Linked DNA regions of Homo sapiens: regions 2, 3 and 4 are each linked to region 1. Evidence: fine-mapped expression QTL. A gene starts in region 1. Each other region holds a variant in brackets. All regions are shown on one strand. Distances are from middle to middle. Region 1 holds the start of SKAP2 (src kinase associated phosphoprotein 2). Region 2 has its middle 59 kb from the start of SKAP2. Region 3 overlaps SKAP2 (src kinase associated phosphoprotein 2). Region 4 has its middle 49 kb from the start of SKAP2.

The links.
Region 2: its variant is fine-mapped to the expression of SKAP2 in whole blood (INTERVAL, PIP above 0.99).
Region 3: its variant is fine-mapped to the expression of SKAP2 in sun-exposed skin (GTEx, PIP 0.93).
Region 4: its variant is fine-mapped to the expression of SKAP2 in whole blood (INTERVAL, PIP above 0.99).

The regions. Positions count from the first base shown.
Region 1 is chr7:26,863,532-26,866,223 of GRCh38, forward strand. SKAP2 (src kinase associated phosphoprotein 2) reads right to left here and starts at 1,059. Exons shown (of 13, transcript NM_003930.5): 1 at 832-1,059. The coding sequence starts at 898. RefSeq lists an enhancer at 1,297-1,626.
Region 2 is chr7:26,922,374-26,925,065 of GRCh38, forward strand. It overlaps the pseudogene RPL7AP38. Among named protein-coding and RNA genes, the nearest start is that of SKAP2, 59 kb to the left of the region's middle. The variant T/C (reference allele first, on the strand shown) is at 1,522.
Region 3 is chr7:26,723,331-26,726,022 of GRCh38, forward strand. It overlaps SKAP2 (src kinase associated phosphoprotein 2), which reads right to left. Exons shown (of 13, transcript NM_003930.5): 8 at 2,593-2,656; 9 at 2,098-2,235. Among named protein-coding and RNA genes, the nearest start is that of LINC02860, 87 kb to the left of the region's middle. The variant A/G (reference allele first, on the strand shown) is at 1,472.
Region 4 is chr7:26,912,704-26,915,395 of GRCh38, forward strand. No RefSeq gene overlaps it. Among named protein-coding and RNA genes, the nearest start is that of SKAP2, 49 kb to the left of the region's middle. The variant C/G (reference allele first, on the strand shown) is at 1,242.

The DNA of each region.
Region 1 (2,692 bases):
TGGTTCTTAGTGAACATACACACCTCCGTATCCAGTAAATTAATGAACTAGTAGTGGATTCATAATGCTACTGAAGAACCACGTTTTTAGCTCCTAAAATAAGTTCCTATAAATGGTAATGTAAAACTGAAAAAGGGAAGATAAGGGTACAAAGATGAAGTACTTTCATCGTGTCACACAGGAAGTAGAACTTTAACATATCCTTCCTTTTTTGCTTTAATATATTACTGAGGCTGGGGACAAGTGGCCATTTGAGAACCAGACCTTCTTCAAAAGTCTTAAACGTGAGTGAGCTGAATGTTTAAGAAAAACGGGAGTTTTAGAAATGACAAACTCTTTCACCCCATAACCCCTAACACCTGTGGCTCTGACAGCTCTTTGCATCTCTACATCCTCTACCTCCATTGGCCAGACCACCCAAGAACTACTTATTTGACTTCTGCTCCCTTCTGCTTGCTCACGCAGCATTCATTATCATTATCATTCTCTCTCCCTCTTCCACTCTTCCTCCCCCGCCCTTCTGTCACACACACACACACACACACACACACACCGTCTTCACAATGCACATAGAAACGTCCTGATCCCATTTGTGTAGATCACCAAAAAGGGCTTCGCCACCATCCCCGCACCAAATTTCAACACACACGTCCACTCCCTTTCTGAGACAAAACAACCCCTCTCCTCTCCTCCCTGTGCCGACCCCACTGGCTAGAAGACGTGGGAAGCGCGGGGAGGGAGGATAAGGGCTCTGAATGCTTCTGTCCCCACCGGCTCACCGTTCCCTCGCCCCCGCCCCGACAGCATTATCGCCGCCTTCCCGCTCTTTACCTGCCAACAGGTTCCTAATTTCCTCAGGGAGGGGGTAGGGAGAGGAGGTGCTGCTGGGGTTGGGCATGTTAGGGAGCGCAGGGCGTGCGGGGAAAGGACCTGCGCTGAAAAGGTGACCGACGGGGTGGGGCTGCGGCTGCGACCTAGACTCAGGCTAGCGGCCCGGATTAAGAACAGCGGGGCTACGAGTCGGGACACTGCCGGGCCGGGGCTCACAACAAGGAAGTCACTGAATCTCCAGCGAGCTGCAGCTGGACTGTCGGCCCAGCCCCGCCCAGAGGGCCGGGGCGGGGAGATGGGTGGGAAGGGACACGAAGGGCCTGAGGGGTCCAACTGCGCATGTGTATTCCTCGGTTTTCCCGGCCCCAGAAGAAAGAGCCTGTGGGCAAGCCACGCCCACCGCTACGCCGGGAAGCAGGAGGAGGAGCCACTGGTGGGAAGGGGGCGGACTGAGGCTGCGTCACCTGATGCTGCGTCACCTGATCCAGCGTCCGGAGCGCCTTACAGCCATTTTCGGTACTGGTGCCATCACAACTGCTGATCGTTTCTGCAGGATTCCAGAAAATAATGTATCCATGATACAGAGTGTATACAAGTTTTGCGATTACGCCTTCTGCGTAACAGTCAGTCCCACCGCAGTTTAACCCACAAGGAATTTTCTCTTGTCCTAAACTATTATGGCCTTCTTTGTCCGATTGAACGGAGGTAACGAAGTCTCGTCTTCCGCCAGTCGTCCGGGCGAAGCCAGTCTGGAGCCGCTCCGGAGCGCGCGTTGTGATTGGCTCTTACATTACTTTTCTACCTAATTCGTATCCTTGGGGTGACAGATTTTCCCCACTACAAGGAAGACTGGGAAGTTCTAAGCACCGTCCTTTGGCAGGAAAAAACAAACAAAACAAAACAAAAAAACAGAAGGCCGAATAGACATTGGCACCACTGTCCATCTACAAGCATCAAAAATAAAATTGCTGGTGGTGGTTAGTAGAATAAAATTATAAAATCTGCTCACTCCAACTTGACCATTTAGTCAACAAATACTTACTGTCTTCTATCTGTAAAGCTTCTTAAAAGTTTTCTCTTTTAAAAAAAATGGCTTCTTTAAAACCTTTAACAGGCATACATCTTTGTGCTTCCCAGATATTGCATTTTTTAACAAATTGAAGGTTTGTGGCAACCCTGCATCAAGCAAATCTGTGGGCGCCATTTTTCCAAAAGCATGTGCTCAGTTCATGTCTCTGTCACATTTTGGTGATTCTAACAATATTTCAAACTTTTTCATTATTATTGTATATGTTATGGTGATCTTTGAAGTTACTATTATAATTACTTTGGGACATCACAAACAGCACCCATATAAGACAGCGACTGTAATCCATAAATGTGTGTGTTCTGACTGCTCTACCAACCCTATACCTTCCTCCATATCTCTCCCTCTCTTGGGCCTCCCCATTCCTTGAGACACAACAATATTGACATTAAGCCAATTAATAACCCTACGATGGCCTCTGAGTGTTCCAGTAAAAGAATCATTTTACTTTAAATCAAAAGCTTACTTTAAATCAAAAGCTAGAAATGATTAAGCTTAGTGAGGAAGGCATATTGAAAGCCGAGACAGACCAAAAGCTAGGGCTCTTGCACCAAACAGCCAGGTAGTGAATGCAAGGGAAAAGTCCTTGAAGGAAAGTAAAAATGCTACTCCAGTGAACACACGAATGATAAGAAAGCGAAGGAGGCTTATTGCTGGTAAAGAAACGTTTTCATGTTCTGGATAGAAGATCAAACCAGACATAACATTCCCTTAAGCCAACGCCTAATCGAGTGCAAGGCCCTAACTCTCTTCAAGTCTACGAAGGCTGAGAGG
Region 2 (2,692 bases), 59 kb after region 1:
ACAGCTACTCAGTTGCTTCAGCTGGCCCACAACTACAGACCAAACAAGAGAAAGACAAAGCAAGAGAAGAAGCAGAGGCTGTTGGTCCGGGCTGAGAAGAAAGCTTGCAGCAAAGGGGACATCTCCACTAGGAGACCACTTGTCCTTCAAGCAGGAGTTAACACCGTCACCACCTTGGTGGAGAACAAGAAGGCTCAGCTGGTGGTGACTGTACATGATGTGGATCCCATCAAGCTTGTCTTCCTACCTGCCTTGTGTCATAAAATGGGGGTCTCTTCCCCTGCATTATCAAGAGGAAGGCAAGACTGGGACATATAGTCCACAGGAAGACCTGGATCACTGTCACCTTCACACAGGTGAACTTGGAAGACAAAGAAGCTTTGGCTAAGCTAGTGGAAGCTATCAGGACCAACTACAACAACAGATACGATGAGATCTGCCGTCACTGGGGAGGCAATGTCCTGGGTCCCAAATCTGTGGCTCGCATTGCCAAGCTTGAAAAGGCAAAGGCTAAAGAACTTGCCACCAAACTGGGTTAAATGCACACTGTTGAGATTTCTGTACATAAAAATAATTAAAATAATACAAATTTTAAGAAAAAGAAAAAGGGCAGGAGACCACCCATTGCAGTGGGCTATGCACTGGCTGAAGAATCCTTTTTTTTTTTTTTTTTTTTGAGACGGAGTCTTGCTCTGTCACCCAGGCTGGAGTGCAGTGGCATGATCCCAGCTCACTGCAAACTCTACCCCCCGGGTTCAAGTGATTCTTCTGCCTCAGCTGGGATTACAGTGATTCTTCTGCCTCAGCTGGGATTACAGGCACCTGCCACCATGCCCGGCTAATTTTTATATTTTTAGTAGTGACGGAGTTTCACCATGTTGGTCAGGCTGGTCTCGAACTCCTGGCCTCAAGTGATCTGCCCACTTCAGCCTCCCAAAAGAATCCTTCATCTTTAGTTTGCAGTGAGAAAGAAAGAACCACATAAGACTCTGCAATGGAGATACTGGAGTACAAGATTAGCCAGGGACAACTTTCTAGTTTAATGTGCAGAGTTCTGTGAATCTTTTTGTACTAAGTTTTCAGGAGTCTCCCCACCCTGAATTGGGTGTGCAGCCACTTTTTGATCCACTGGCACATAAGGCAGACACTGTGCCTAGTCTAAACAAGAAATGTTTCTCTCTTCTTCCCTGGTAACAAAACTCCAATTTGTATTCAGGTTTTTGAAAGAGATCCCTTGATTTCAGGAAGGGTAGACCCCTACCTCAACAACAAGGAATGAGCTGAAATTGGTCTAAATCAGTCATAGTAATTTTCTTTTCTTTCCTCAGGGATTGGCCAATAAGTGGGCACATGACTGAATCCTGGCCAAGGAGACAAAGGGAAAGTCCACTAGGGAAGGCTCTCTTGCTAATAAAAAGACAAGACTCCACAAGTAGAATGTCTCTACCAGTCTTCCTTCTTGTCCTGAACATGGACATGGTGACTGGAGCCATGGTAGCTATATTCTGGCCAGGAAAATGA[T/C]GAAGAAGCTGGCCCTGAAATCATTGGATTACTGAACTGACTCAGGCAACTGCCTACCTCCAGACTTCTTGTTATGTTAGAAATACAAAGCTCATTTGTTTAGGCCTGTACAGATGACTTTTCTATTTCTTGCAGTCAAATGCATTCTGATACTGTGCTTTGTCTACTTATTTCTTACCTCTGCCCTCTGACAGATGAGGCCCAACCCATTTTTCTTACTTGGCTTTATTTGAACAAAGATTCTAATAAGCACAAGAAACCACTCTGTTGATAACTCCTCTAATATAAAAGGAAAGAGTCATGTTCTGTAATAAGTATTTTGTATCCAATTGGTTTATAAATTGAAAACACAGTTTAAGCAGAAAGATAAAATCAAATACAGTCTCTTGCCTACTTACTTCTCATCTCTCTCTCTCATTTAGTTCAAAGAGACATAAAGTGACACCACTCCATCATTTTTGACAGAGCCACATGTGTAATGCAAAACATATGCTGAAGTTTTGTAATTACTTGGGTTCCTTGAGCAGAAGAGAAATGAGCTCATTGTATGTTCATGGTCTCTTCTCCTTCTGTGTCACCTGCTACCATACCAGGTTGATGCCCTCTCAGACATCAGTTACTACAAGCAATAATTATCATTATTATTCTAATGCCTTACATATGAATGCCGTTTGGCAATATTTCAGAGTGCTTTTAAGTTAGTTCTCTCCCTGAAGGCTCACAACTCTACCACTTACCTGTCATATCACTCCCATAAAAGATTACTGTAGAGACTCTGAGGGAAGGAATCCGCATTTTAGAGGAGAGATGTCATTTTCCTTCTCCCCTAAGTCTAGATCTGCTGCAGGCACAAATGGCCTCCTACTATCTGTTCAACCCCACTCCTCTCCTAAACTAATCATGACCAGCACCAAGAGGGGTGTGGAGTTAGTCTTGCTGTCTATAGCAAAGTAAAAATTCACAAGCCTGCCTATGGCCCTCTGGTCCTTCATCCTAGTGTAGGTATTTTTCCCACTCTGATCAGACCTCTGCTAGGATTTTCTAAGGTGATATTGGAATCTCTTACTGGAAGAAGAGTTCTATTCGAATCTTGGGCCTGATTCACTGCCAAGCCTTTGCTGATCACTTAGGCCCACAGACTAGATTTCTGTTCTAAACTGGATTGATCTTC
Region 3 (2,692 bases), 140 kb before region 1:
GAAGAAGGGAACTAGACATTCCACAGCTGCCTACAACGGCTTCCTTCCCGGGGCACAGGTGCAGGCTCCATCAAGCTCGATCACTTTGCAGAGCAACTGGGGATCCCAAGCAGGGGAAAAGAAATTCCAGGGCAGCTTAAATTTCTCCCAGTACCACAGCAAGAAGTAACACTACTTAAAAAGTAACCAGTTACTTCCAACAATTATGTGTGAGGGTGGGTGAGGAGGGGGGCAAGGAAGAATGAAGAATAATATCTCCAGTAAGAAAAAATAAAAGATGTTTCATATTTTTAAAATTTCAAGCTACTCAGACCTTCCTTAGGTCTTTGTTATGAAAATAACTATGAATATCTGGTCTTTATTCCTGATCAATTTTTTTTTTCTTTAGGGGTGGGGAGAGAACAGCCAAGTTGAAAAAATACAGAACTTAACAGTTATTTCAACAATTGTAATGTAACACATTCATTGCAGGGTTTTAAAAGGATGTAATGGCAGTAATATCGTGTTTAAATGTATTCCACTCTTCCATTTTATGAGTATACATTCTCACAAGTTCTTTTAAACATTTTTAAATACTAAAATAATTGTATTAATGATATGGTGTGACCAAAAACAAGCAGCCAGGGAATATTCTTCCCTACTTGAGGATAACTGATGCTACAGCAGATGCCATTTCCTTAGGGTAAACCAGAAAGGAAGGGGTTAATAAACATGTAGCTCCACTAAACAACTGAAATACACAGATCACTATTCCCCATAAAATTATACTTTTATACTAATCTTCTGGGGTAGTAAAATACAATATGTAGATGCATACATAGTTTTTATACCTTAAATTTATAATATTGTTAAAATTATTACTTTTTACTTGGTTAGAAAACCATTACTGTACCACCACATAAGCACTTGCAAGAATTCACCAGATACAATAATAAAACAAAAATGATGGTGATGTTACAATTAATTGTGGGATCAAGCACTATGCTGAAAGCCTTCCATAAATCACTTCACCTACCCCTCCCAATGACATTATTTCCATTTTATAAATGAAGAAATTAACTTATAAAGTCACTAAGCTAGTCAATGGTACAGCCAGAATTTAAATTTTTTTCTTCTAAAGTCCATACTCTTGGTATTATGCTGTATTGTCTTGAAAATGACATTTGTACATTAATTTGGAACATTTTAAGTATTTTTGAAATCAATTTTAAAGGTTTAACATTACATCATTAAATTGTTATATTCAGAGCAAAATGGCCTCTCTACATGAGATGTACTAGTTAAATCTTGCTTATATTGCTTATGATACCTTTTTCTTCTCTAACTACTGATTTTTTAATAGCCAAAAAAGCTCATTTCAGCCTAGAGTATTAGTAATACAATTTCCTAAATGTTTTCATATGTTTCCTAAATTTCAGATGTCTTTTTATTTTAGATTGATCCTCATGGCCGCAAGTCAAGTAGCTAATAG[A/G]TAATTAATTTTATGTTACATAACAGACAGGCATGTAAACACTAAACTAGGTCTGAGCATTTGGAATAAGAAAACTTTTTTATTCCATATTGATGCTAAAATATCAACAGGAAGACTTGAAGCCTCAAAAGGCCTTTGTTTATAGTTCAACAACATTCCTCTGAGACAGTGCAATATACTACAAGCAAGGAGAAATACGAGGCAGAAGTTGGTAACATCTGGGGTGTGCATAGAACTTCTGGTTAATGGAAGTTCCAAGATGTATAAATAAAAAACGATGTGTGAGTTGGTGGAAAAAACTGTAAGGCAAGTCAATTTTTTAATTAAAAAATTATGTAGCATAAACAATGCTAATGAGCCACAAGTCCCAAGAGATTAGTATTGTATCTGCTTCATTTTAATGTTTCATTCACTTTTCGTAAGTTACATCTACTCACTTGAAATATCTCAAGCAGAACCCTTTTTGTAAAATAGAGTTTTGAAGATATTCTTTGTCCTTGTTCTCAATAGGTCACCATTTTCTACTCAAGCTGTCGAGGACAAATCACACACACAAACACACACACACACTCACACACACACACACAGCCCTAAAATCTTTAAATGAATCACCAGAAAGTAAATACCTGGAAGTTCTTCATAAATTTCATCATCTATTGGTTGACTGCTTGTTAGTGGATTGCTTATTGGTAGAGGATGATCAACATCATCATATAATTCTCCTCTCTCATCATAATCCTCAGGAATAATATCAGATTCCATATCTATAAAACACATTTCATGAAGTAAATTTTAAAAGAATGCAGAAGATATTTTTAAAACTATACTTTATAAATAAATGCAGCCCTACAAAGCAACAACAATATTGTTATATGTTATGTCCTTAACTAAAAACATGTTTAAAAATTGTTTTGTAAATATGTGAATTTTAAAGTAAGCCAATTGGTACTTATAGAAAAGATGCTGTTTAAAATCTGAAGTGAGTGGTCTGTATTAATAACAGTCACATTCAAGTTGGTCATTCTCACAGAAGTCAATAAGCTTTTGTATATGAAAACCCAAACTACTCTGTTATTTAGTATTTAAAGACTGTGATAACTTGTTCGATTGATTTATCTTACCTTGCAATACAAATTTCAGCTGCTGTACCCATTCTTCAGCATCTTTGGGAGAAGCTGCTGTAAACTAATATAAAACAAACAGTAAGAACGAAAATCACCA
Region 4 (2,692 bases), 49 kb after region 1:
GCCTGGAATGCTAGAAAGACTCTTTTACTTTGGGCACAATCAGTGGAAAAGCAACTTAGAAACTTACAAGGAAAGAGTTGCAGTGGTGCTTCTTCCTCCATAATCTCCCTGCCAAAAGATTAGAGTAACTAAATTCTTTTCAGTAGTGTAGCCTTCAATACATATGACAACACTCATGAGTGTGTTGATCTAATATATACTAAGATATTATTTCTAAAAACGTATGATTCAAATTTTCTTTATATTATGACAAATAATTATAATATTAGGTCACATATTATGGGTCTGGCCAGAGGCATGGAATCATGCTACTGTTGCTTCTACTACCACTAGTTCTCTACTCTATAGAGATATTTTTATGCTTTGTATGTCATTCTGTCACATGAAGTGTGTTGTAATGAGTATATTTATGAGTCTAGCCATTGGGAGTGGAAACTGATGTATTATGTAGCCTTGCACCTCATGTGCAGCTGAATTATAATGTAGATCTTAACAGCCAAGAAGTCTGTAATCAGAGAAAAAAAGAATTTCAAAACATAAACTATGTTCTTGGCACTAGCCTTGAATACTGGACATTCATAACCCACAAGTGCCCAGACTATAAATTTGCAAGTTGCATTAATACGGCAGTAAAAGTCACTCTTCTGAAAGCTGCACTTGTAAAATATTTATAAATTCACATGGTTGTTCCTGGCAAATATCTACATCTGTCAGCTCTGTCTTTTTGCTCCCAAAGCAGCAGAGTTGGTGTCCTGTGTAATTCACAATATGTTCATAAAAAATTATTTTGAAAAATCAAGATAGAAGATATTTTATTCTAAGGGGCAATATATCTGCTCCTCCAATGGTATGGTGTTACTATTTGATCTCCTGAGATCCTTTCTCATCAAGTCTTTTTCTCTGAACAAGATTCCAAATTAGCAAGGCAAGTCCTGTGGAGTTGTCTTTAAAATCTCACATTAATATGTACAACACAGGCCAGGCACGGTGGCTCACACCTGTAATACCAGCACTTTGGGAGGCTGAGGCAGGCAGATCACCTGAAGTCAAGAGTTCGAGATCAGCCTGGTCAACATGCTGAAACCCAGACTCTACTAAAAATTCAAAAAATCACCAAGGGTGGTGGTGGGCACCTGTAACCCCAGCTACTTGAGAGACTGAAGTGGGGGAATCACTTGAACTCGGGAGGCGGAGGTTGCAGTAAGCGGAGATGGCGCTACCGCAGTCCAGCCTGGGCAACA[C/G]AGTGAGACTCAGCCTCAAAAAAAAAAAAAGAAAAAAGTACAACACAGTGGAGTTTTTCCTTCCCAAGTCAATATGTATATCAATGTCACATGGTAAAGGAATTTTCTATGTACATAATCTCCCTATAGTATTTAGGAGATGCTTCATATAGGAGACCTTCTAGATAGACCTGTCTAGATAATTTTTTTTTTCTTAAGCCAGGAAAAAAAATTAAAAGACATCAGATTACATTTTCATATAGATGTATACCATACCGATGTAGTCCATTATTTCTAGTGGGGAGAAAGCCCCCCAAAATCATACCTACTAACAGACTGAGTACTTGACAATAAAATATGCTGTTGTATTTGTATTTGTTTAATTTTTACTGCCATCTAGCTTTTCCTTCCCTCTCTCCCCATGAAAAAGGATTTAGGGGCCGGGCACGGTGGCTCACGCCTGTAATCCCAGCACTTTGGGAGGCCAAGGCAGGTGGAGCACAAGGTCAGGAGATCGACACCATCCTGGCTAACACAGTGAAAGCCTGTCTCTACTAAAAATACAAAAAATTAGCCAGGAGTGGTGGCGGGTGCCTGTAGTCCCAGCTACTAGGGAGGCTGAGGCAGGAGAATGGCATGAACCTGGGAGGCCAAGCTTGCAGTAAGCTGAGATCATGCCACTGCACTCCAGCCTGGGCGACAGAGCAAGACTCTGTCTCAAAAAAAGAAAAAAAAGAAAAAAAAAGAAAAAGGATTTAGGTTGTTTATAATGCAAACATAATTGTTATAAAGACAGAACAGTTAAAGGTGAGATCAGAAATATAAAACACCAGATAGTATTATAGTCCTTAAATTTGGGGAGATAATGCATCCCTTTGAGAATCTGATGAAAACTTTGTGCTCTTTCCCCAGAAAATGCAAATAAGTATATACAAACAAACAAAACACATAACACACACTTTTGTATACTAACTCAGGCATTCAGAGACCACCAACACCATTCCACAGACCACCACAGAGGAAGGAGAAAGAAAATGTATATCAGGAAACTAGAATAAAATTATTAGTACCATTAAGCATGAAGTTTAGCTCTAACTTTTAGTCAATACAGAAGGGAGAATTCAAAGGGTTTCACAGATCTCAATGTTTAACAGAGAAATACACATCAGGTTTTCAGGAGACATATTTTGAGAGGAATTTGTCGGGCGGATGAGTCTCGGATTTATTTTATTTTTTATTTTTTTTGAGACAGAGTCTTGCTCTGTCACCCAGGCTGGAGTGCAGTGGCGCGATCTCTGCTCACTGCAACCTCTGCCACTTGGGTTCAAGCGATTCTCCTGCCTCAGCCTCTGGAGTAACTGGGATTACAGGCGCCCGCCACCACACCTGGCTAATTTTTGTATTTTTAGTAGAGATGGGGGTTTCACCATCTTGGCCAGGCTGGTCTTGAACTCCTGACCTTGTGATCTACC